Linked DNA regions of Homo sapiens: all the other regions are linked to region 6. Evidence: fine-mapped QTL for protein levels in blood plasma. Region 6 holds a variant in brackets. A gene starts in each other region. All regions are shown on their forward strands.

Region 1 (4,090 bases), not on the chromosome of region 6:
AGGGCAGGTAGAGAATTTATTTGCAAAGGATTGAGGTTTTCTAAGACTTGGATTACAGATAGAAAGGAACGAATGGGCAGGAGAGTGTGTGCAAGGGACTGACTGACAGTGATGAGCCATGGAATCTAATTTAGATGTGGTGGGAAGAGAGAAAATGAAGGGAAGAGAATAGTGAAAAAGTGTCAGGGTCATTGAATGTTTGGAACAAATTTAGTAGAGTAAGTGAGCTAAAAAGATTGTTGAAATGGTCTAGAGTGTGATGCTTAATATTTAGATACTTTAGGTAGTGTAGTAATTGGAAATGACAAGGTTTAGATAGACTAGAATCAATAGTGGAGACTACTAATAGCTCACAGGGACTTCTCTGGTTTCTTGATTGGACATAGCTATGTGCATTCCCATTGACTTCTGAACCACCATAAGTAAGTTTCCTCTTAGTGAGATCATTAGGCTGTTTCTGTAAATTTCCCCATTAAATGTTAAATTTCTCTCAGGCTGGGCACTTTGTTGCTTGCTTCAGCTAGTATCCTCTAGTCTTCTCTGATTGTTTCCCACTGTAATCTCTTTGTATTCAATAGGATCCTCGGGCATGGACCTTTCCAAGCTATAAAGTCACTCTTCTCCAGCAGGGGAGCAGAGCTTCCAGTCCACATAGCCTGCCTGCCCATCCAGGGTTCAACTTCTGAGCCACGGAATTGGGCTGCGAGACAGAGGTGGATGAAAGCATCCGCTCTCTTTTACTGAATTTTATGGAGACTTTCTGGAAAAAATATTTCCCAACATTATGCTGTTTGGCCAATTTCCAGAGACAACCAATGGTTACTTTTAAATTTTTATCCAGTTTTATTGCTGCCTTTTGGTTGGGAGTGAATATACCAAGACCCTCACATAGCCATTCTCGAAGTCCCACCTGAACAAAATGATTTTGAATTATAATTCTGTTCTTCAAACATTTCAGGAAACGTTACTTGGCAAAAATTATTCTTTTTTTTTTTTTTTTTTTTTTTGAGACAGAGTCTCGCTCTGTCGCCCAGGCTGGAGTGCAGTGGCGCGATCTCCACTCACGGCAAGCTCTGCCTCCCGGTTTTACGCCATTCTCCTGCCTCAGCCTCCCGAGTAGCTGGGACTACAGGCGCCCGCCACCACGCCTGGCTAAATTTTTTTTGTATTTTTCAGTAGAGACGGGTTTCACCGTGTTAGCCAGGATGGTCTCGATCTCCTGACCTTGTGATCCACCCGCCTCGGCCTCCCAAAGTGCTGGGATTACAGGCTTGAGCCATTGCGCCCGGCCAGCAAAAATAATTCTTGATTAGACCTTTTATAGTTTATGAAATATTAAAACTGTTAAGAAGGTACCTAATTCTTAGTGCCAGTTTTAAAAGGGAATTTACAACTACAAAAGTGATATTGTTGTATTAAGATGAGGACTGATGACTTGCACTTGCTTGCCTTTTGAAACAGCTGAACCCTTGGCTAGAAAAAAAAAAAAAACCCAGGGGGCCGGCGGTGGGGAGCTTCCTCTCTCCTCTAAACAGTCCATTTCTGATTGTTCCAAACTCAGAGACTCGGTGACTACAACAAGGAAATTGAACAGCAGTTATTTTGCTTAAATAAATATTACATAACGAGCTGAGAATATTATTGTGAAGACACTGATTAGATACTATTTGCTTATTTCACACAACCCTCCATGAACTTTGATGTTTTCCACAAAGGGCTTTACTAAACTAGCTTCCCCTTAGTACATTGAAATTCAAAGTCATGCTTGTAACTGTTAATGAAAGCAGATTTAAAGCAACACCACCATCACTGGAGTATTTTTAGTTATATACGATTGAGACTACCAAGCATGTTGCTCTTATTCAGTGTAATCCTAATCTCATGGGTATCCACTGTTGGGGGAGAAGGTAAGTTGAAAACAGATCCGAATATTTTAGTTCCTTTTCAAATGTATTTATTGATTGTGTGTGTGTATGCATACAAATATTTTTAAATGAATAAATAGCTGAGGATAATTTGAAGGGGTATCACAATATTCATCTATTTTCTGGAAATATTTTCCAACATGCAATTAGCAGGAAAATTGAATGAAATTAATTCTCTCCGTTCTCTAGTTTGCTAAGGGTAAATGGTCACCAAATAGATAATGTAAAGAGAAATCAAAGGAGAGAAAATCTGCTATAATAAAGATGACAAGGTGAAATATTAGTGTAATTCTGCATAAACTCTGCAATGCCACTGACTAGAAAAATCAACCCCAAAAGATTTGGCCACCTTCATTATGTTTTGAGAATTTTATTTTCATAGATTTGATAATTTACATTTTAAATGTTATTAAAATGAAGGAATTCTCATTTCAGCCTAATTATCATTCAACAGGGAAATATATTTTAATGAAACAATAGAAAATATTATTTTTATATATAAACCAGTGAACTGCCAAAAAATTGTTTCTTCTGAGCTCTTCCACAAATTTCAAAAGTGAAATAATATATCACTTCTTTATTAATACTATAAACTGATTCTTATAACATTATAAACTATCCCATTTTATTTCATGTGGAAATTAAAGCCACTATATCAAAAGGATTGCAAACAAAATCTCTAACAAGGTCTAGGATACTGATTAAACTATGTGTGTACGTGAAGTTTCAATCATTGTGCTATATACTCTTTGATTTCCAGAAAGTTTTTATTTTACTGCTTTACTGCTTTCTAATGTTTACAGATCTTTAAATTTTTTGAACACTTTCTTCTCAGTCCTGACATAAGAGAAAAATATGAACCATAAAATGCTTTCTTTTTAAGATATGCCCTTACAAATGTTGCAAAACATTATTTCTATGGGCCTAAAATTCATTTTATTTTGTTTTCACTTTTAGTACTGAGCTATAATCACAAGAGTGCGATTGCATGAGTGTATTTGATTTTTCTTAAGTCTGTGTTTATGATATTTATTAAGTGGCTTAAACATCTGTTACAAATGGCATTACACAAGGATTTCTAAAGGGGGGTGGAAGCAGAGGAAGATAAGTGAAAATTATGAGGATAATATGTAGAATTTTGACAATTCCTAACCCCACAAAACTTTCAAGCTTCAGTCCAGTCCCAGGATAAACTTTAGTGAAATTCTATTAAAAGTTGTCTAGGTGTTAAATGACCTGTAAGTGTGCATTACACTTTTGTTTTGGTGTCTATTTAGAAACTGGCCAAACAGCAGAAATAACAGACGAAAGCAACACTTTTGTACAAATAGAAAACTGCATGCTTCCAGTAGCAAAACATGAATCAAGCAATATATTGTGCTTCATGCTGTAGCAAAGAAGCTGGAAAGAATATGACAACGCCACCCACCCCTCACTACTACTTAGAGTGTCCTAAAAGAAAAGCAAAATGTAAATAGGCAAATAAATTGCAAGGTTTTATATATAGGTAATTGTCTGTGTGTGTGTGTGTGTGTGTGTGTGTGTGTACACTCATACATCACTTAATGATAGGAAAACGTTCTGAGAAGTGTGTCTATAGGCAATTTCGTCCTCCTGCAAACATCATAGAGTGTACTTACACAAACCTAGATTGTATAGCCTACTACCTAACTAAGCTATACGGCCTGTCACTCCTAGACTGCAAACCTGTACAGCATGTTACTGTACTGAATACTGTGGGCAACTGTAGCACAAATGTAAGAATGTGTTTACCTAAACATATAAAAGGTACAATAAAAATACAATATAAAATATTAAGAATGGCAGACTTGTATAGGGCTCTTACCGTCAATAGGGTTTGCAGGACTGAAAGTTGTTCTGGGTAAGTCACTGAGTGAGTGGTGTGCAAATATGAAGGCTTAGCACATTACCATACACTACTGTAAACTTCATGAACACTGAATACTTGAGCTAGGTAAATTTATTTTATTTATATATTTATTTCAATATTTTGGGGGGAGCAGGTGGTTTTTGGTTACATGGATAAGTTCTTTAGTGCTAATTACTGAGCTTCTGGTGCACCCAGGATAGACTAAATTTATTTTTAAAACTTTTCTTCAATAATAAATTAATTTATGATAAGCTTTCTACTTTATCAACTGAAA
Region 2 (4,090 bases), not on the chromosome of region 6:
CAGTGATGCAATCTCAGCTCACTGCAACCTCCACCTCCCGGGTTCAAGCGATTCTCCTGCCTCAGTCTCCTAAGTAGCTGGGATTACAGGTGCCCACCATCATGCCCAGCTAATTTTTGTATTTTTAGTAGAGACGGTGTTTCACTATGTTGACTAGGCTGGTCTCGAACTCCTGACCTCAAGTGATCTGCCCGCCTCGGCCTCCCAAAGTGCTGGGATTACAGGCATGAGCCACCGCGCCCAGCCGAATGTTTTGTTTTTTAAGATGGAAGATATCCCAGCACTTTGGCAGGCTGAAGCAGGTGGATCATTCCAGCTTGGGCAACAAGAGCGAAACTCTGTCTCAAAAAAAAAAAAAAAGAAAAGAAAAAAAAAGAGAGAAAGAAACCCTAGGTAAAAGTCTGAGCCCCACCTCCCAATCACCTGATCACCTCAACCACTGTCACCAGGTGGATGACCTTGGAGAGGTCACACACTTCTAGTTCTGTAAAATGGGGAGTTATATTGCCTAAATCATATAATTTTTATGTTAAGTGACACATTCTCTAAGGCACTAAGTTTGAGGACATACTTTGTAAATGAAATGATATATGGAAATGTTTGTATATGTTAATGGTTTTGTTGTTGCTATTATTATTATGACTACTATACACATGGTCTGGAGAAAGCCAACCTCCCCAAAGCGGAGATTCTCCAGTAGAGAACAGGCCCTCTAGGTTGCATATCAATAGGGAGCATGTTTAAGGAATGTTAGCCGGTAGTCTTTGCTAGGTGTGAGGGGTGAAATTTTTCTTTATCAAGGCTCAACTGTTTTCGAAGTCTTCAGGCTTGAAGTTCTGGAGAAAACAACTAGGCTCTCCGGGCGAGATCCCGAATACCAGTTTAAGGGATTTGAAATGCAAGGCCGTCTGGGACTCCACTGCCACGGATGGGCACCAGGCGGCGCCGGTCGGATCCGTCCCGGGACTAGCAGGGCTTTGGGCAGCAACCCGCAGGGAGCCCGACCGCCTCTGGCCAGGTCCGGGCAGCTGGTGGGGGAGGTTCCAGAGGTCCACGCCATTCGTGGACGCAGTCTCTAGTGTCCTCTCCGCGTCCCACTTCACTGCCCCATCCCCTTTCCTGCGAGAGCCTGGACTTGGAAGGCACCTGGGAGGGTGTAAGCGCCTTGGTGTGTGCCCATCTGGGTCCCCAGAAGAGCGGCGGGAACTGCGGCCGCCCGGACGGTGCGGCCAGACTCCAGTGTGGAAGGGGAGGCAGCTGTTCTCCCAGGCGGCCGTGGGGGGCAGCAGAGGGGACGGCGACAGGTGCGGGAGCCCCTCCCGGGGTAGAAGTGGAAAGGCGGGCTCCGGGGTCTGTTCCCAGGCTGGAAACCACCCCCGCCCCCCATCCAAATCCCCGGGAGAGGCCCGGCCGGCGCCGGGTCTGGAGGAGGAAGCGGCCAGAGACAGTGCAATTTCACGCGGTCTCTGTGGCTCGGGTTCCTGGGCTGGGTGGATGAATTATGGGGTTTCGAGTCTGGGAGAAACTGAGGTGGCCTGGACGTGAGGCAAAAAACACCCTCCCCCTCAAAAACACACAGAGAGAAATATTCACATTCTGAGAGAAAATCCACCAAGTGAACCAACCGGCTAGGGGAGTTGAGTGATTTGGTTAATGGGCGAGGCCAACTTTCAGGGGGCAGGGCTTTGGAGAGCTTTCCACTCCCTCATTCATTACCCTTCCCTGGATCTGGGGGCTTTCGGAATCTCGACCTCCCCTTGGCCTATCTCCTGCAGAAAAATTAGGGTGAGCCCCATCCTCGATCTGCTCCGCCAAGTTGCGGGACCGCGGGGCGTGGCACGCTCGGGGCAGGCGGTCCGAGGCTCCGCAATCCCTACTCCAGCCTCGCGCGGGAGGGGGCGCGGCCGTGACTCACCCCCTTCCCTCTGCGTTCCTCCCTCCCTCTCTCTCTCTCTCTCACACACACACACCCCTCCCCTGCCATCCCTCCCCGGACTCCGGCTCCGGCTCCGATTGCAATTTGCAACCTCCGCTGCCGTCGCCGCAGCAGCCACCAATTCGCCAGCGGTTCAGGTGGCTCTTGCCTCGATGTCCTAGCCTAGGGGCCCCCGGGCCGGACTTGGCTGGGCTCCCTTCACCCTCTGCGGAGTCATGAGGGCGAACGACGCTCTGCAGGTGCTGGGCTTGCTTTTCAGCCTGGCCCGGGGCTCCGAGGTGGGCAACTCTCAGGCAGGTAAGTGGCGCGAGAGCACCGGCGGGCTCGGCACCTGGGAGCCGGAACCCAGTGCGCGCAGCCTCGGAGGGTATGGGCACGGTCTCAGGCGGCGCGGGGTTGTGGGTGCTGCCCCCGGTTTGCCAGGACCACCTGGGAGAGGGGCGGTCAGGCTCGGGTTATCGGCGTGGTCCGGCCGAGGGCGGCATTCCGGGACCCTCACGCCACCCTTCTCCAGAGCGTCGCCGACCCTCTAATTGGTCTCCCCAGAAGAGGCTGAGGCCGAAACAGTAGTTCACACTTCTGAGGGGCCCTGCAGGGAGGGGAGCAGGGAACTTCATTCTGTAAACAGGAGGTGCTTGGAGGTGGGGGCCTTGGCGGGAAGGGTCTCGGTTTGCTCGCCAACCCCCTGCCCCCCACCCGCGCCGATTTCAGCTACCCCTAGTTTCGTTGTTTTGCCGACAGGGCGGAGCTACAGAAGGTTGGAGGGGGTTGTTGTTCTCTGGTGTTGGAAAAACAGGAGCGGCACCTCCTCTTCCGTGAGTGAGCCTGCCCTGGGGAGGTCTGAGATTAACCAGAGGGCCAAGTTCAGGTGACATCAGGCAGGAGGCCCAACAGAGGCTGGCGCCCCCTTTCCTCAGTATAGCAGAGCTTAAGCAACATCTCTTTGTCAAGACCCAGGTCAACACAACTCATATTTATTGAGCATCTACTATACACAAGGCCCTGGGCCAGGAGCTGTAAGGGCAAGGATGTCCAGCCTCTGGTCTTTTCTCTCCCCAACCTGAGGATCAAGAGGGCACCTCTGCTACTTTCTAAGCCTCCTGCCTTGGGGAGTCCTTCCTGGGCTCAGCTTGTGCCTCCCGCCCCCATTTTGCTTATTGTCTGACACTGTCTCTAGGACCCTAGACAGAGCCCCGGATTGCTCTTCTCCAGTCCTCCCCCGACTCCCATGCTATCTGAGCCCACCCCTTTGGGGTGTCTCTGGGACCGTGGACACCTGAGGACTGAAGTTCTGTGGATCTCCTCCCCTCCCCTCAGATCTCAGCTTGGGGTTTGGCACAGCCAGGGCCCCTTCCCCAGTGTGGGAGTGGAAGAAACCACCTGTGCTTCCCTCACAGTTGCTGGGCCTAAATTTAGATCCTGGGATTTTTAGATGTGAACACTCCCAGCTGGTGGAGGGGGGTGGTCTGGGGACTGGCGTGGGAGGGAGCAGTGGAGTGACTGTATAACTGTCCCATCCAGACTCCTGCAATCTTCACCCAGAAACCCAGGAGTACCAGAGTCTGGCCACCCTCCCTGGGGAGGCAGGAGGCAGGCATGGTTGGGTCTCTTTACCCTTTATCTGGGTCCTGCAGCCTCTGGGCATCCGGCCCTGTCTCAGTCCTTCTATAGCCCCTTTGTCCTGGCTGTGATGGGGGTGGGGGATGTTGGAGGGGAGGCCTCTGGTTGAGGAGGGGCTGGAGATTCTGGCTCTATCCCACCCCTAGTGCTCTCTACCAAAGGAGGGCCTGTGACACTGCCCCTCCCTATGCTCCCGGTTCCTGGGTACAGCAGGGATTTTTATGATTCCCTTCCCCTGCCCTGCTCCCCAAGCTGCCTAGCTCCTCCCCAGAGGTGTTGTTTGTGCTCCCTTCCTGCCCAGGCCCTTTGCCCCCTGTTTGTGTAATATGGACTTTACCCTCAGGGTAGCAGGGAACTGGGCTACCTCTAACACTGTAGCCTTCCAAGCACAGACACAAAGTCTGCACAAACACTTATGGGCACGTGGGATAGATGGGGCCACCTGAAATACTTCCTGCAAGGAAACCCAACTATAGATTCCTGAGCCAGCAGGACCAATGTGTACGTGTTCGTGTGTACATTGTGTGTGTATGT
Region 3 (4,090 bases), not on the chromosome of region 6:
AGATATCAGTTGAAAGATACCTTAAAATTTTGTGACACTGAATTTAATCAGCCAACCATTCCTAAGGAATTGATAGCATATTTACTATTTGGTTAGATGGATAGGCACTCTGGCATTAAATTAAGTCTCTAAAGTTGGCATTTTTTCTCCATTAGTTTGCCATCCTGCCCACTTACCTCTTGAATTTGAAAGATGTAAACAAAAGATTTCTAAAGATTAGAAAATTAATTTTTAAGATAATTAAGCTGTTTTGAAAATTAGAGTTTATTACAAAATATGTTATCATTTTATGTATTATTAATTTAACAATAAGTTTTATGACAGAAGATTTAAGTCAAAATAGTTGTACAATCAACAAGCAAATGATAATCATTTCCTTAAATGATTATCTGACTGATAAATGGACAATCAGTCAGACCATCAAACACCAGTTGATAACATAATCCATTTGGACAGGAACCACATTTCCAAAGGAGTTTTGATTTAGTCATTGGTGGTAAAACAAAAGATATCAGACTGTACCTTAAAAACAAAGAAACAAAACAAAACAAAAACTTGTCCAATTCAGTATACCTAATAGAGATAGGAATCAAATAGTAGTATATGTCATTAAACTTTTCCAACAAGATTCTGTGGTCACTTGAAGTAGAAAAACTTGGTTTTCCAATATAACTACTCAAATCAGTAAAAATAAATATTTTAAAGTTTTACTCTTATTTTAAAATTACTTGATTAGTTATCTGTATTTACATTAATATTTTTCAATCTTTGTTGATCCCTAATTATATTTCATATAATTTTATTAAGCTGTAGGCCACAAATTAACATTTCAAACTCAGCCAAATTTCAGGGACTATCCCTCTTTAGTTTAAGGATTAGATGAGATATGGACACTGTATATTGAAATAATCATGCACTAGAATGATAGATTTAAAATAATCTTTAAAATGTGTTAGGGAGATTTTGCCTCCCTAACACATTTTATTCAAAAGTTTTGCAGTATCTCTCAAAATTGTCACAACTTTCCCCCTTTCATGTAAATATTATGCTTTTACACATGAAATATGACTCTCTGGGCAGTATGTTTCCTGCTTGAGTTTTGCCCTTTGTGTTTATATTATCTCATGTTATACAAAGTCATTTTGTGACTAATTTCCAGAGCACTGAGTCACAGTGTGGCTGTTGCTTATCTTTTCTTTTTTCCCACATGGTAGTACTCTTGGCCCTTATTTTTGGTAATTATTTTATACTAATGAGTGCTTTTTCATAATTAAATAATTGTTTCTCTCATTATATTTCTGTGGTTGTTTACTGCTGTATTATATGCTTTCATTTTTCACTAGAAGCAAACATTTTATAACAGGAACATAACAGTACATCATGTAGGCATGTTATCTATTGTTTTAATTTACAAAATTGCACAACATAGACTTGATCGTAAGTATTCTCGTTTAAGTATCTCAGAATATGACCTTTGGTCTTTGGAGAATTGTAAAATATTTCCTTAGAGAGATTAGTTAATGCTGGCATAAAATATTCCATTTAGATTACGATTATTTTAATGGTTATACCTCATTTTAAATATCATCAACTAATAGTATTGAAAGATTATTTGAATAGAAGAATAACAGTCTCTATTTTATATGTTATGAAATAAAATGGAAAGGTAAACCGAACTTTCAAGAACTTCCAATTAACCAAGCACAATTAGTAAAGAATTCTACTACAATCTTCAAATTATAAAAAAGCTACATACACCAATTAGTTACAAAAATGTTTATGGTTTAAAATCATAAAAATTGCACATAAATTTGCTTAAGAACTAAATGCAAAATGCTGAGAACTCAAGTTTGGATTGCAGTTTGAGTTTACTCTGTTTACAGGGAAGGGCTGATTTTCATTTTACGCAAATAAACAGTGATCCTCCCCTATCAGTTCTTTGCCTCTCAGCACCCTGCTTTTCCCCCGAGAAAAAGAAATTAAAGTTATTTCTTATGGGCTAGACAGTATATTGCCAGGTACTCACAAGTAAAATCTCTGATGAAAGTTCTTGGAATGTTTTTTTCAAAACGGAGTTGAGGTTATTTTGTTTTTCCTTCCAGGTATTGAAGACAGGATTTATCTTCTCTACTTCTTCTTTTAGAAGCAGATCAAGAAACTGGCGATTGAAGAGTAACTGAAAGAAACGCAATCTGATCTTACTAGCAGTGAAAGAGCGAGGTAAGAATTTGACTATTATCCAGCCTAAAGTCGCTGCTGTCTGTTAGAGCAAAGAGGGAGCCTCAGAGTCGGCTTCAGAGATCACTGGCAGTTGGGAATAGCCCAACTTCCTGTTTAGGTCACTGCAACTCTGACTCTATTTAGTCTAAACCTCTTTTTTCTTTCTTTCTTTCTTTTTTTTAGTGGAGGAAACAGATGAAGGAAACAGCTTACACCAAGATTTCAGATACGATCATTTTGAATAGCTATTTCCTTTACTTTCCAGGATTGTTTTTGTAATCAGTTGAAAAAGAATGCTTTTTTCCCCCTAGAGTTAGGGTTTAAAAAATTACATATTTATTATTACACTGTTAATAAGCTTTTTTGCAGTTTGTTTCTTCTTCAAGTTATTTCATTTGTTTCACCCACTGTCAATGTATTTATTTTTTTTAAAAGTCTGAGGGCTACCGTTGGAGGTCTCTCTTAGTGAGACAATGTAATGCATTATCTATTGCAGGTGTCAGGCTTTGAGCCCTACCTTAGCTACTTGCTAACTTGGCTACTCAGCCCAGTTATTTGAATTCACTATGCCTCAGTTCCTTTGTTCCTAAAATGTCGATAATAAAAGTTTCTGGGCTTGATGTAAGTACTAAATGGCTTAATACATAAAAAGTACTTAAGGCAGGACCCAGCATGTAGCAAACCTCCAATAATTGTTGGCTATCATTATCGCTGTTTTCTGTATTTCTATTATTATTATTCTACAAAATATGTAAATATTTACAGATGTCAACCAGAGTCTCTGCTGTATGTCCCTATCATTGAGGTTCATCCGTACTGTCTCTGTATTGGAATTATGGTCATATCAGACTAAGATCACTAGAGATCTAATAAATGGGCAGAATCTACTTTGCCAGGAAGGCTGAAGACATTTGGTCAGAAAATGTAGGAGTTTCTTGCTTCTGCATCTCAGATTCTTTGTGCCTTCAATTTTTCTTGCTTTCCTTAGACCTCTCTGTAAAAGGTAACCTTTCATCTTGAGTGTTTTTAATACATATTGAATAATTATTTGGTGGTGACTGGAACATAAATTATCGATTTAATTCTCACAACTAGCTTATAAAGAAGGTCCTCTTTGTATGCCCATTTCACATGTCTAGGAAGATCGAGTTCAGTATGTGGAGCTGTGATTCTAATGTCATGCAGTCTGCCTTTAGAGCAAAAATGCATAAATCCTCCTCCATGCTGCCTTCTCACTCATGTTCTGGATTTCATATCATGTTAATAACTTATCTCCTATTACCTCATGCCCTGCCCCTCAACCACAATCAAAGCTATCATCTCACTCAGATTGTAGAGGAAAGTCCTTTTTTCTTGGTACCACCATGGACCTTGATTAAACTTTTGAGGAATCTGTAGCTCAGGTAGAGGCAAGCTCAGCCAATCAGATTTTCTTTCTTGAAAGTTTCGCCTCTCCTCCCTCTCCCTCTCCCTCTCCCTCTCCCTCTCCGTCTCCCTCTCCCTCTCCCTCTCACGGTCTCCCTCTCCCTCTCTTTCCACAGTCTCCCTCTGATGCCGAGCAGAAGCTAGACTGTACTGCTGCCATCTCAGCTCACTGCAACCTCCCTGCCTGATTCTCCTGCCTCAGCCTGCTGAGTGCCTGCAATTGCAGGCGCGCCGCCACGCCTGACTGGTTTTCGTATTTTTTTGGTGGAGACGGGGATTCGCTGTGTTGGCCGGGCTGGTCTCCAGCTCCTAACCGCGAGTGATCCACCAGCCTCGGCCTCCTGAGGTGCCGGGATTGCAGACGGAGTCTGGTTCACTCAGTGCTCAATGGCGCCCAGACTGGAGTGCAGTGGCGTGATCTCAGCTCGCTACAACCTCCACCTCC
Region 4 (4,090 bases), not on the chromosome of region 6:
CAGGTGATCCACCTGCCTCAGCCTCCCAAAGTGTTGGGATCCACCCCTCCGGGCCCACCACTGTTCTTTGTTCTAAATTTCTTCCTGAGGGGCCTGGAGGAGGTCATGCCCACAGGCCAGAGCTAACATTCTTTTTTGCTGATCTCAAATTTTTTGACAAAGCCTTGCCTTCTTAACCAATCACAAATCAGAAAACCTCTGAATCTACTACCTATATGACCTGTGGGCCCCCAGTTCAAGATGTCCTAGCTTTTTAGGTCAAACCAATGTGCAGCCTCCAGGTATTATTCATGTGGGACTTAGCCTGTAACCTCTGCCTCTCCACCTTGAAAAACCCTCCCCCATCAGCCATCGGGGAGTTCAGGTCTGAAGTGTGAGCTGCCAGGTTCTGCTCGCCTGGTGCCCTGCTCTAAATGCCTCACTTCCTCTCACTGCAATCCCGACGTCCATGTTTGGCTTTGCTGCGGGAGGGCAGAGCCAGGCTGGGTTTGGTGACAAACGCTGAGTGCTCACCAAGTACCAAGCCCTGTTCTCGGGGCTGGGGTGCAGAGCGAACAGGCAGAAAGAAGGTCTCTGCTCTCATGGGGCCTACGCCTCGGTGGGGAGAGACTGACAATAAATGAAATAAACGTCTAAGATATGAAGTACATTGGATCGTGGTTAGTGGGATCGAGAAAATACAGCAGGGGAGGGCTTTAGGGGGAGGGAGACCTGCTGTCAAGGTGATGTTTGGGTGCCGAACACCCCGACGTTTGGGTGATGGAATGAGATGCTCAGAGACATCAGAGTTGCTTGGTTCCAGGCCCATGGACCACTCAAGGCCCTGTCTCAAATCTCCAGGCTTCAGGACACGCTGCTTTACATGGAGGCGGGCTCTTCATCTGGGCCTCTGAACAAGGCCTGAGACAGGACGCAGGCAAATAGCATGAGGCACGAGACTGTAGTCCGGGATGGAGAGTCAGAGTGAGTCTGAGGATGAGTGCAGATGCCTGCAGGGCAAGCTCTGCTGAATTGCTTTGCTATCTAGTTTTTATTACAGTCATTGAATCGGGGTGTCTCCCATTATCTGATGACAATTTTATGATGAAAAGAAACCATGCTGGCTTTGTTCGGTCATGGAGATGGGAAAGGTCCGCATATTCAGCAATCTGTTGAATTCTTCCAGGTTAAAACTGGAGCTGAGAAAAACCTGCAGCTGCCTGTCCCTCCCTTCACCTCTTCCAGCGAGAGGCAGTGGGGGACTGGAGAGCTGATGAAATGGCAGAGATAAAGGTTGTAAATTAGTTTTCCCTGAAGCCGACCAGCCTGAGCAACAGGATAAAGGTCGTTATTACAGACAGCCCCCGGCCTTTGGAGTTCACAGTTTCTCCATTGCTAGGAGATGGAACTCTCTGGAACCCTTCTCCAGCTCCACAGAGAGGCTCAGGCTATCAGAGGATCTGAGCGGTTGTAGGCTGCAGGCACAAGTTAAAAATAATCACCTAACGTTTTGACAGCACTTTCTTTTTTTCTGTCCCACAGAGATTGGAAGTCATTTTCTTATCCTCTTTAGGAAGTATGTTGGATTCAGGATTCTTAATTCCCATTTAAAGTCAGGACAATTGAGATAACTGTATCAGCTAACATTTACTGGGTGTTATGTTATACTTGCTAATAATAATCATAGCTAACATTTACTGAGTGATAATTTTTCTTAATAGAAAATAGCAGCATTTACTGAGTGCCACATATTTTCCAAGTACTGCCTGAAGAGCCTTGGATCTGTCCTCTAATTTATTGTTACAGCCCTGAGGAGGAGGAACTATTAACCCCCATTTTGTGGATGAGGAATTCGAAAACTAAGAGAGATCAAGTAATTTGCCTAGGAGCACAGCTGGTGAATGTTGGAGAAAGTATGAAGCGGTAAATATTACTTAAATCACATAGCAAATATAGCTGTGACTGCAATTCTAGGGTGTGTGTCTCTGTGTGTCCACGTGTATTTGGAGTAGATCGGATAAACTTTGGTCTTGGGTAAACTGAGGCATGTCTGGCGAAGGGGCTGACTCTTTTCTATCCCATTGAGAACATCCTCCTGGTGCTGGGGTGGGGGTATATGTGGGATGGTGTAATTGCGCAGCGTACCTTGTAATTAATTCCGTAGCTTTCACTGACGTCCGAAAGGATTAGAGAGAAAAATGTGGTCAGCGCTTAATATGGAGGGCACAGTGGGTGTGCTGCTTTCTCTTTTCCATCCCTCTGTCAACTTCATTCTCTTTTGGGGGCAAACAAGACTCAGATCTAAACAGAGTTTATGGTTTGTTTTGCATTTTGTATTTATTAATATTTATGCCGACTTTGAAGGTGCTGACCAGAAGGCATCAGTAACACACACACGCACACGCACACACACCACACACCATGTCTGTTTGGTTTGATTCTGAGCCTGAGATCCTGGAAATATTTCAGCTGTTGTTAAGAGGCTGGAGTTAGGACCCAGGAAGGACACAGCAGTGGGGATATAAATAGAAAAGGAGAACAGAACAAAGTTTGAGGAGAGAGACTTACATCACTCACTCCCCCTCCACCCAGAGAGCAGGACGGAGGTGTGAACTTGAGCCAGACCAGAAGGAGCTCGAGAGCGGCCGCAGGACAAGCCCGAGGAGCAGGCGGGCGCTCCAGGGGAAAACCACGCACAAAACCTTCTTCAGAGAAAAGGGAAGCTCCAAACCTGACTGAGACAAACGGAGGCTCTTGAAATAAAAAGAAAATACCGCAGGACAAACAGCCTCCCGTCCCCGGGCGCAGGTCGCGGTCACAGTGGTGACCTGGGATTGCTTTCCCAGGACTGCGAGTCGGGTTTGGGTTTCTCCTCCCTGCATTCCACAGCTGCTCTGGTCATCGCAACGTGTTTATTGATCACTGAAGAATCTCAAGTTTTGAGACGAGGAAGAAACACCCATTAGGTCTCCAAGACAGCTGTGTTTCACAAACTTTAAGGAGACAGAAATTTTCTCCCCTGGAACCTGTGAAAATGTCCCTTTTCCAAGGAAGTGAAGGTTAAGAGGTCCCGTTCTCACAGACCCTCAGGAATTTCACTTGGCTCCGAGCTTTGACCTCCGAGAGAGCCATGGAAAAGCTGCTGCGGCTGTGCTGCTGGTACTCCTGGCTGCTGCTATTTTATTACAACTTTCAGGTAATGTCCCCAAGTGGCCAGGATGGCGACAGGCTTGGTTTCTCCGGAGGCTTTCCCTGAGTGTGTCTCACACTGTGGTCTTTTGTGCGCAGGTGCGTGGCGTCTACTCCAGATCGCAGGACCATCCAGGTAAGAGTGTTTCCTTCTCACTCTGAGCACCGCTCTCCCCCTGCCTAGTGCAGGTATCTCAGGAACAGCCCACTTGTTCATCTCTGAGGCATCAGCGAATGGCCCTTGTTGGGCTCCTGGTCCCCGACCTCACTGCCTCACCACACACTGTGACCCTGGGCAGCTCTGCTACCCCTCACCGGCTGAGCGGTGGATGGAGAAGTGGTTCTGGGCCCCTTGAGCTGGGTCATATGAAACATTGTGATTAAGGAAATATGATCTTCATTTGAATGCCTTCTGCCTCTTTCTTTCTCTCTTTCTCTCTTTCTTCCTTTCTTCCTTTTTTTCTTTTTGAGATGGAGTCTTGCTCTGTTGCCCAGGCTGGAGTGCAGTGGCCGCAACCTCTGCCTCCCGGGTTCAAGCAATTCTCCTGCCTCAGCCACCTGAGTAGCTGGGATCACAGGTGTGCACCACTACACCCAGCTTTTTTTTTTTTTGTATTTTTAGTAGAGACAGGGTTTCACTATGTTGGCCAGGCTGGTCTCGAACTCCTGATTTCAGGTGATCCGCCCGCCTTGGCCTCCCAGAGTGCTGGGATTACAGATGTGAGCCACCACACCCATCTCATGTCTTCAGGGCAGATTCACTGGTGGGGAGTTGGAGCTCTGGCCCATAGCAGGGTCTCGGGACCTCCAGCCTCAGAGTGCTGACCAGCTTAGCCTGGAGCAGCCGATGAGTGGGACTCGGGATAGAGGGCCACCCTTGCTCCAGCCCCAGAGCCACATTCCATTGGCCATTGTGACACCC
Region 5 (4,090 bases), not on the chromosome of region 6:
AGAAAACTGCAATTCAAACCAATCCCCCACAATACAAGGCTACTCAGAACCTAAGAGTTCTCAGAACTCCCTTAATCTGTACACTTTGTAACTTCCTGCCAGGAAGAACACAGCTAGCTTCTAAGTAAACTGCTGACTTGGTCTTTGGGTCATGCTCAGGTATTAGAGAATAGAGAATTGATAGATCAGGACTACTCTCCCCAAATATTGAAAGTTAATGCTTACAAGTGTATTATGTATGTCTCAAGATATCATCTGGCATATGGCACATGGGTTATAAGAATGAAGTTTAGATCTTCTAGGGGACTGACTGGAGGTTTTTAGCATCCATTTCATCAGAATCTGAGGACTGCTGAGAATGTTGAAATATAGATTGCAGAATGCTCTGTTATTCTCCAAAGGACACTTTCATTCTTTGAGGTGAAGCCAATGTGCACCTATTGAGTCAGCAGTCTAAGATGGTGATTCATGCTCCTGCTTATGGCCTCCATATATAATTCCAATTCCTAGCCATTATTGGACCTTCTGTGTTTGAAGACCCTGATCTGAACCTGCTTCAGTAGGATTTTTCAGGATCAGATCTGCCCCAGCAAATCCTTGGCCAAAAGAATAAGACTTAAAGGGATTTCTTGGAACATGGCCTATTCAGAGGTCTTATAAGGGACACAATTTATGTTGCTTTTTTATACCCTATGCTGTCTGGGAAAGACTTTGTAGTCTTACCTAAGGACGCATAGCTTACTTAAGAATTGATGGGTAAGACGAGTTAAAATAATTTGAATGATGAAATAAGACCAAGGAAAAGTAAATGTAAGAAGAAGAATAAAAAGTCAAGAGTAAGGTTATTCATGTTACAGTTAATAACTGATAATTCTTGGGAACACACATTTTATTCCACTGGCAAAACACATTACTATTATGAATAATAATGTACGAATTAGGTGAGGCTGTTAACTGACAGCACTAAATGAAAACCTTAATTTTACAAAGCAGGATAAATGCAGATGTCCCTTGTGAACATTAAAGAATCAGCCAGAAAAGTAAATTGAAGCTAATGATGAAAAGTTTCCCAGCTGTAGAATTCATAAAGTTGTATACTTCCCATAATCTCAGTCTTTATCATGTAAAAAAATTTTTAAACATTGCCCAAAGATGAACACACCATCTGAAGAATAATTTCAATGAAAAATATAACTGAATTATCTTATTTGTGGTTATGTTTCATAGCTATAGAAAAATTTTATGTGAGGGATATTTTTAAAAATACAATGCATTTTCAAATACTGCATGTATAAGATTCCTCTAAGGGGATCAAAGAAATCTCTAAGTTGACATCATGCATCATTGGCATGGTATATTACACTCAATGGTAATAAATATTTGAAGTCTGAATAAATGCTTAATGGTGGATCACAGTCTTTATTTGCATTATCTTGTAACAATTAGCAAATGTCTAATTTTAAATTATTCTCTCTAGGTCTTGCTTATCAACAAAGGAGGAAGAGATAATTGACAAATTATATCATTCCATTTACTTTCTTTAACAAGATTCTTGTGTTGATTTTTTTTGTCAATTCCAATTCAACATTACATGGCATCGTGGAGCTCTGATTAATGCCTCTCTGGTCCTTATCCCTCTCCCCAACATATTCACCAGTTCTTCTGTTTCTTACTTTTTATTTCATTTTTTAAGTGATAATATAAAATTAAACTAGTAAGAATTCCTGTAAATGGTCACAACAAAAGAAATCTTACCTCTCTCTAAAGCATGTCCAAATGCCACAGCAAGCAGTAGTACCAGGACCCTCTTCATTTTTCTACCAGAGAGTCTTGCAGCACCTCCTCTCTCCTGTAGGTGACCATGTAAAAGTGGTAGCCAAAAGTAATTGGTTTCCTTTTTACAAAGATTCCTGACTATGAATTAATCAATTATTAATCTCAGAAGCAACACAGAATTATTATTAAACACAGAAGCAAGGGGCTGTTATCTTTGGCCCAAAAGAGATAAAATAATATCAATCAAGGTAAATAGACACCCTGGGGATACTGTAGTGGAAAATCTAGGAGATTTTAATCATTAACTTTGTCAAACTGCAAAAGAGCCAAGGTATATAGATTATTTTCCACTGCTGTTCCTCACTAAAGTTTACTTAATATGTTAGTAACGCACACCTTCTCCCCCTGTATAGGGCTGTGTGTCTTCTTTGGACACCCCACCTTTCTCATATGTAAGTGGAAAATCGGAAACTCTGTCTTTACCTCTCTTCCTCTCTTTGTTTAAATCTACTACAAATAAGCATTACCTTAAAATATTGCAGACCAGATGTTCTAAGTAAAAGGGGAAAAAGAGTGAGAAGCCAATTCAACATAATATTTTAAATCCATAATTCTGATGCTATGAAGTAATCTTATTTTAGATGATGGCATAGTACTTTGTATTTCTATGCTGTATTGCACTTTGTGAAGCACTGACATATATATGAAAAATAACCTTTGAAGTGAGGCAAATAACTGGAGAGGTTAAATGGCTCACCACTGCCAATCATAAAAAGTTAGTGGCAAATCTTGGACTCCCTACAGTGATTTTAAAGCTCCTTCTACTAATAGTTTACAACTAGTATATTTTATGGGCATGTAATTTGAGAGCTCAGAGAGGCCCTGTAGGACATGAAATCCAACATCTTCATTTTACAGAAGAGTGAACTGAGCACTGGGTAAATTCTGTGACTTGTCTAGAGAGTCATAGGTAGATCATTCATTGGAATTAGATGAGTTCCACTCCTGGTTTTTGCAGTAGCCCTATTTTCAGGAAATGGTCAGGTACAGGTTGTTACACATGCTCTAAAATCAAATCCCTACTCAGCTTTCATAGCTGTGTAACCTTGGGAAATTTATTTTACCCCTCTAAGTTTCATTTTCCTCATATGCAATGTGGTGATAACTCAGTACATTTGACACAACATTGCTATGAGGTTAATTAAGGTAATCTGGGTGCAGGGCTCATGGTAACATCCATCACATAGTAACATGGATTAATGTCACCTATTACTCTTATTCTAGTTATTGCCACGTTCTCCCACTGGCTTTCCAAATTTATAATATCTGTGAAGGTCAATGAAACTAATGAGGCCATTGGAACTCAGTGGAAGAGTTTAAAGACAGCCCTGTGTCCAGGGTCCCGCAGATAAGTGATTTAAAACTTCATTATCAACTCAGTAGCCAAGGATTATCTACATGGGCAGAGTCTATCAAAATTTCAGTAAACCAATTTAGGTAGTTACATGTTTAGTCAGATTTTCTATCTATACTGAAAATCCTTGGGTGTTAGGTTCAGAAAATAGAGTCCAGCTAGTTGGAAAAAGATACCTATGCCAGATCAAAGCACAAGTATTTCTGTAAGGCCAGTGGAAATCCATATGGTCAAGGAGATAGCTTTCCTGTCCAAGAGCCAACTCTATCTTGTTCAAGGATCAACTTCCTGATTACTATAAATCTAAATTTTCAGTTCCCTTTGGCTGAATTCCTAGTTTACTGTGCAAGTTAATTTAAAAATGTATTTTAGTTCTATGGCAAATTATTTGGAAATGATACTCCAAATGAGTGTGAAAAAGTTTAAAAACTACTCAGAACCCCGGAACTCAAAAGAGGTAGGTAACACATTAGCATATTGATACAGTTTTCATTTTTCTTTAAGATAATACACTGTATTTATACTTCTGTATCCCTTTTATTCAACTGTATTTCGTCATCTTCTGATTAGTTCATTCAAAAAGACACACTCAGATTATTTTCTACGAATTTTGATACAGAGTTTAAGACCAGCTCATTCTTTCATTTTTTAAAAAATTAAACTTTATCTCTGCTTTTGCAATAATATTTACCACGTTTGTTTAATGATAAACTACATGTAGCAAGAATTGCAACATCTCATTTAGATGCCCTCTTGAGAAATCTCTATACGAGCTGCCAAATGCATTCTCTTGGCTGAATTTTCTAACTGAAATTCGGCAAAACAGGCTAGTAGCTAAATATATGAGCCTTTTTTTCAGTCTTATTTATGTAACTTTCCTTAATCTTTCAAATGTTGATT
Region 6 (4,090 bases):
TTTCCTTCCTTTGGTACTGGTAAGGAAGCTTGGGTAAAGTGGCTGGCACTCAGGCAGCCTACCAGAGCTCAGTGGCTTTCTCCCAGCCTCCCATCAGATGCCTGAGGCCCCCTCCCTCCCCCACACCCCTGGGCTCTTTTTCGAAACACATAGAAAAGGGTCAGGAAGATGGGTTCTCTTCGGGCTAGAGATGTTTACTGGGTCAGGCTGATGGATTGCAAAATGGAGATTGGGCAAGGGTACAGAGGGCAGGACCCAGGATCTCAGGGCTATGGTTGGACCCCAGCAGACCCTAAGGCCATGGCCCAGTGCCCTGTCAATCTAGGTGATAGGTGTTCCTCAGATCCCATCACTTCCGAGGGCAGCGAAGCTCTGAGGGCCCCTTAGAGCCCACAGCCCAGGTGGTTGCGGGGCTTGAGGCACATACAGCGACGCCTGGCATCTAGTGAGTGCTCGCCCATGCTGGCTCCCGTCATTACCGAGTTCTCTGGCTGGCATTGCCATCCACCAGCTCCATCAGAACACGGCCCACCTGCACCCGGGCGCTGCCTCCCTCGGTGACTGGTCCCACCACGCACCCACGGGAGGGTAAAACTGGCTCTGCGGACATCCCGACATCCCGACATCCCCACATCCCGAGAGGGGCAGGGGGAGCTCTCAGGCCCTAAAATAGCTGCTGAGCAAGACTTGGCTTCTCTCCTTTGGGTTGAGAGTTTACCCGGCTTTTTGGAGATGCTAGAGTCTACACTGAGCAGGTTTCAGCAGTCAAATGTGTCCCTCCATTCCAGGAACCGAGGTGTTGGAATGGTAGCAATGGACATGGACAAATGGTGGAAGCAGGAGGCGGAAGAGAATCCGCTCAGAAGTTAAGAGGCCTGGACTCTCACACTGATCACGTGACTCGCACCTTCCGTTTCCCAGAATAGCGGCCACAATTCCTGCAGAATCCCTCCTGAGGGGTCTTGGAAAGATGCAAATGATGTAATGAGCAGAAGCAGGGGATTGACTTCCAAGCTCTGCCACTTATTAGCTTTGTGGTCACTTACGCCCTCCGCAAGCCCCAGTGTTTTCACCTGTACAATGGGGGATTACAATACCAACTGCCAGAGTGGATGCAGGTGGCGTGCAGACTCTAATCACAGCAGTGAATGCAAGAAGGAAGGTGGAAGGTGGTGGCGAGGTCCTGAAATGGGCGTCCATGTGGACTTGCACACACCGTGACAACCCCAGAAAATGGTTAGTGTTTTACACTCTTTCATCTGGATTTAAGAGCCAGTCGAGCATGAGGTGTCACTTTGCAGTGTGTTTAGGAGTCTCCCTGGTGAGACTGGTGTAGCACCAGACACTCAGGCAAATGCTGCCCAGTAAACCACAGTGGTCAAGAACGTGGATTCTGGAGCCAGACTGCCTAGGTTCAAATCCCGGCTTTGCCTCTTTCTAGTTGTGTAACATTGAGCAAGTCACTTAACCTGTCTGTATTTTATTTCCTAATCTCTAGAGTGGGGAGAGGAGCAGTGCCCTCCCCTCTCCCATAGGGCTGTTGTGAAAATTGAAATGAGTTAATGAATGTTTCAGAGCACTTGGAGCAGCGAGTTGTATCAGTGCTTCGTAAGTAAAATAAATGACAGGTCATCCTGGGCCCTTCCTCAAGGCCCAGCTCCCTATGTCTAGCGACTATCAGGGGGTGTAGACAAGGAGAAAGTAGCTTTTATTATTTATTTATTTCTGAGACAGAGTCTCACTCTGTTGCCCAGGCTGGAGTGCAGTGGTGTGATTTTGGCTCACTACAACTGCTGCCTCCCGGGTTCAAGCGATTCTCCTGCCTCAGCCTCCTGAGTAGCTGGGATTACAGGCATGCGCCACCACACCTAGCTAATTTTTTTTGTATTTTTAGTAGAGACGGGGTTGCATCGTATTGGCTGGGCTGGTCTTGAACTCCTGACCTCAAGTGATCTGCCCACCTCGGCCTCCCAAAGTGCTAGGATTATAGGCACGAGCCATGGCACCCGGACTTATTTTTTATTTTTATTTTTGTAGAGATGGGGATCTCACTGTATTGCCCAGG[C/G]TGGTCTCAAACTCCTATCCTCAAATGATCCTTCTGCCTCGACCTCCCAAACTTGGGATTACAGGCGTGAGCCACTGTGCCTGGCCAGAAAGCAGGCATTTAATCACTGTTATCCTCAAATGGTTAGGTGAGAAAAAGGGAGGAAGGTAGAAATGGCTTGCCTACTTTGGGCTTTAAAGAAGTGAGGTCTGTTTCCTGCACCTACCACTTTGGGAAATATTTGTTTTTTGGCAGCAGGTAACCAGAAACCAGAGCTGGTCAAACTGGGGCACACACATACACACCACCCTGCCCCAATCTCTGGTTTAAGCTCTTCTGGCCATCTGTTCAGGCAGGGTGGGAAAACTTTCACAAAGCAGGCAGGTCCCAGGCCCCCCAGGCCCCAGGGGCTGGCCTTAGAGTCCAAAGACCTGATTCTGGTTCTAGGCTAGCTTTGGTCCTGAGACAATGTCCTCAAAGCTCTCTGAGCTTCCGTCTGCCCTTTGGTAAAATGGGGATTGTCATTAACACACCATTGGAGATAACAGATGCAAACCTGTTGTAAACAGGAAATCTCAGTATGCTCAGAACGGTGGGTAAGGGGTTATCGGTGAGTAGAACTTCCAGGGCACCAGGCAACTGTCCGCTGTGAGATTTCTGCACAGCCTGGCCTCTGGAGGTGTCCAAACCTTCAGCTGCTGGTGTTGAGGCTCAGGAAGCCTGGCCTCTGGAGGTGTCCAAACCTTCAGCTGCTGGTGTTGAGGCTCAGGAAAACCTCACATGCTGGAACTTGGCAGGCAGATGACTGGCCATGGGCATTGTTGGGTGAGGCCATACCCATGATCTGCAGTCAGGAGACCTGAGTTCTTTTCTGGATCCTGCCACTGTGTGGCTTTGGGCAGGTCACTTCTTTGAGCCCCATCTCATCTTCTGCGAAATGAGAGGATGGTGGCAGGAAGCAATGCAGTCTGGCAAGATATAGGCCAACGAGGTAATATATGTGAAATAATTTTGCAAACCATAGGGGTTACAGCATGGAAATAGCCCTGGTCAGGAGTTTGGGCTCTAGCCCTGCCTCTGGAGCAAGCATGATGTGTGACTTTGGGCAAGTCACTGCTCCTCTCTGAGCCTCATTTTCTTCATCTGTAAACTGAGAGTCTGGGACTATATCAGTAGTTCCCAAACTGGATACACGTTAGAATCAACCTGGGCCAGGTGCGGTGGCTCACACCTGTAATCCCAGCACTTTGGGAGGCTGAGGTGGGTGGATCACTTGAGTGTAGGAGTTTGAGATCAGCCTGGGTAACATGGCGAAACCTTGTCTCTGCAAAAAATACAAAAATTAGCCAGGCATGGTGGTACTCGCCTGTAGCCCCAGCTAATTGGGAGGCTGAGGTGGGAAGATGGCTTGAGCCCAGGAGGCCAAGCCTGCAGTGAGCCATGATGCACCACTGTACTCTAGCTTGGGCAACACAGTGAGACCCTGTCTGAAAAAAAAAAAAAAAATCAACCTGAGAGGATGGATATAAGAGATGCTGATGCCCCCACTCCATCCCAGAACCACTTAATCAGAATATCTGGGGTGGGGCATTTTATAAGCTACCCAGGTGTTGCCAGTGTATAACCAGGATTGGGGATATCTGGTCCAGGTGATACAGGAGGTTCCTTTTGGCTTGAGCTTGTTTGATTTCTAGGAAGTTCTTGGGGTATAGAGTTCACAGATGCTTCCAACACTGGGGCCACCATCCTCCTCCCTGCTGAGAATGATAAATTCCTGCCCAACCGTGGAGCCTATGATCTCAACTCTGGCTGTGCACTAGAATTTCCTAGGAAGCTTTTAAAAACCTTCCATGACTCAACCCCACCCAAAGCAAGTTAATACAATCTTTGCGGATGGTTCAGCCCTAGTTTGAAAAAGCTCCCCAGGTGATTCTAATGTGCAAAGTGGCGAACCACTGCTTTGAGAACAGCCAATGAGCCAAGAAAACAGACAGCCCTCCGCCTGGCCCCTTCCTTTTCCTCCTCAGAATGCTCATAGTCTGATGT

Direction of the effects. Positions count from the first base shown, and alleles are read on the strand shown. Strength reflects both the effect of a copy and how common the allele is.
As copies of G replace C in region 6, the plasma level of the protein whose gene starts at base 1,741 in region 1 goes down (weak association).
For the plasma level of the protein whose gene starts at base 2,016 in region 2, allele G in region 6 goes with a lower level than allele C (weak association).
For the plasma level of the protein whose gene starts at base 2,262 in region 3, G is the low allele of the variant in region 6 and C is the other (weak association).
For the plasma level of the protein whose gene starts at base 2,551 in region 4, G is the low allele of the variant in region 6 and C is the other (weak association).
As copies of C replace G in region 6, the plasma level of the protein whose gene starts at base 1,874 in region 5 goes up (weak association).

Evidence for each region. PIP is the chance, under the fine-mapping model, that this variant and not a neighbour inherited with it causes the effect. Protein levels are from antibody-based Olink assays in UK Biobank. Linkage for the fine-mapping came from a reference panel and not from the study's own genotypes, which makes the PIPs less certain.
Region 1: it holds the start of CFHR5, and the variant in region 6 is fine-mapped to the plasma level of the CFHR5 protein (UK Biobank, PIP above 0.99).
Region 2: ERBB3 starts here. The variant in region 6 is fine-mapped to the plasma level of the ERBB3 protein (UK Biobank, PIP above 0.99).
Region 3: TFPI starts here. The variant in region 6 is fine-mapped to the plasma level of the TFPI protein (UK Biobank, PIP above 0.99).
Region 4: ADGRD1 starts here. The variant in region 6 is fine-mapped to the plasma level of the ADGRD1 protein (UK Biobank, PIP 0.97).
Region 5: GC starts here. The variant in region 6 is fine-mapped to the plasma level of the GC protein (UK Biobank, PIP above 0.99).

Annotation. Positions count from the first base shown.
Region 1 is chr1:196,975,816-196,979,905 of GRCh38, forward strand. CFHR5 (complement factor H related 5) reads left to right here and starts at 1,741. Exons shown (of 10, transcript NM_030787.4): 1 at 1,741-1,907. The coding sequence starts at 1,850.
Region 2 is chr12:56,078,150-56,082,239 of GRCh38, forward strand. It overlaps ERBB3 (erb-b2 receptor tyrosine kinase 3), which reads left to right and starts at 2,016. Exons shown (of 28, transcript NM_001982.4): 1 at 2,016-2,233. The coding sequence starts at 2,152. RefSeq lists an enhancer at 1,673-2,663.
Region 3 is chr2:187,552,174-187,556,263 of GRCh38, forward strand. TFPI (tissue factor pathway inhibitor) reads right to left here and starts at 2,262. Exons shown (of 8, transcript NM_006287.6): 1 at 2,027-2,262.
Region 4 is chr12:130,951,357-130,955,446 of GRCh38, forward strand. ADGRD1 (adhesion G protein-coupled receptor D1) reads left to right here and starts at 2,551. Exons shown (of 25, transcript NM_198827.5): 1 at 2,551-3,175; 2 at 3,268-3,304. The coding sequence starts at 3,110.
Region 5 is chr4:71,782,206-71,786,295 of GRCh38, forward strand. It overlaps GC (GC vitamin D binding protein), which reads right to left and starts at 1,874. Exons shown (of 13, transcript NM_000583.4): 1 at 1,756-1,874. The coding sequence starts at 1,813.
Region 6 is chr8:125,485,724-125,489,813 of GRCh38, forward strand. The region is part of intron 2 of TRIB1AL (TRIB1 associated lncRNA); the gene reads left to right. Among named protein-coding and RNA genes, the nearest start is that of TRIB1AL, 21 kb to the left of the region's middle. The variant C/G (reference allele first, on the strand shown) is at 2,066.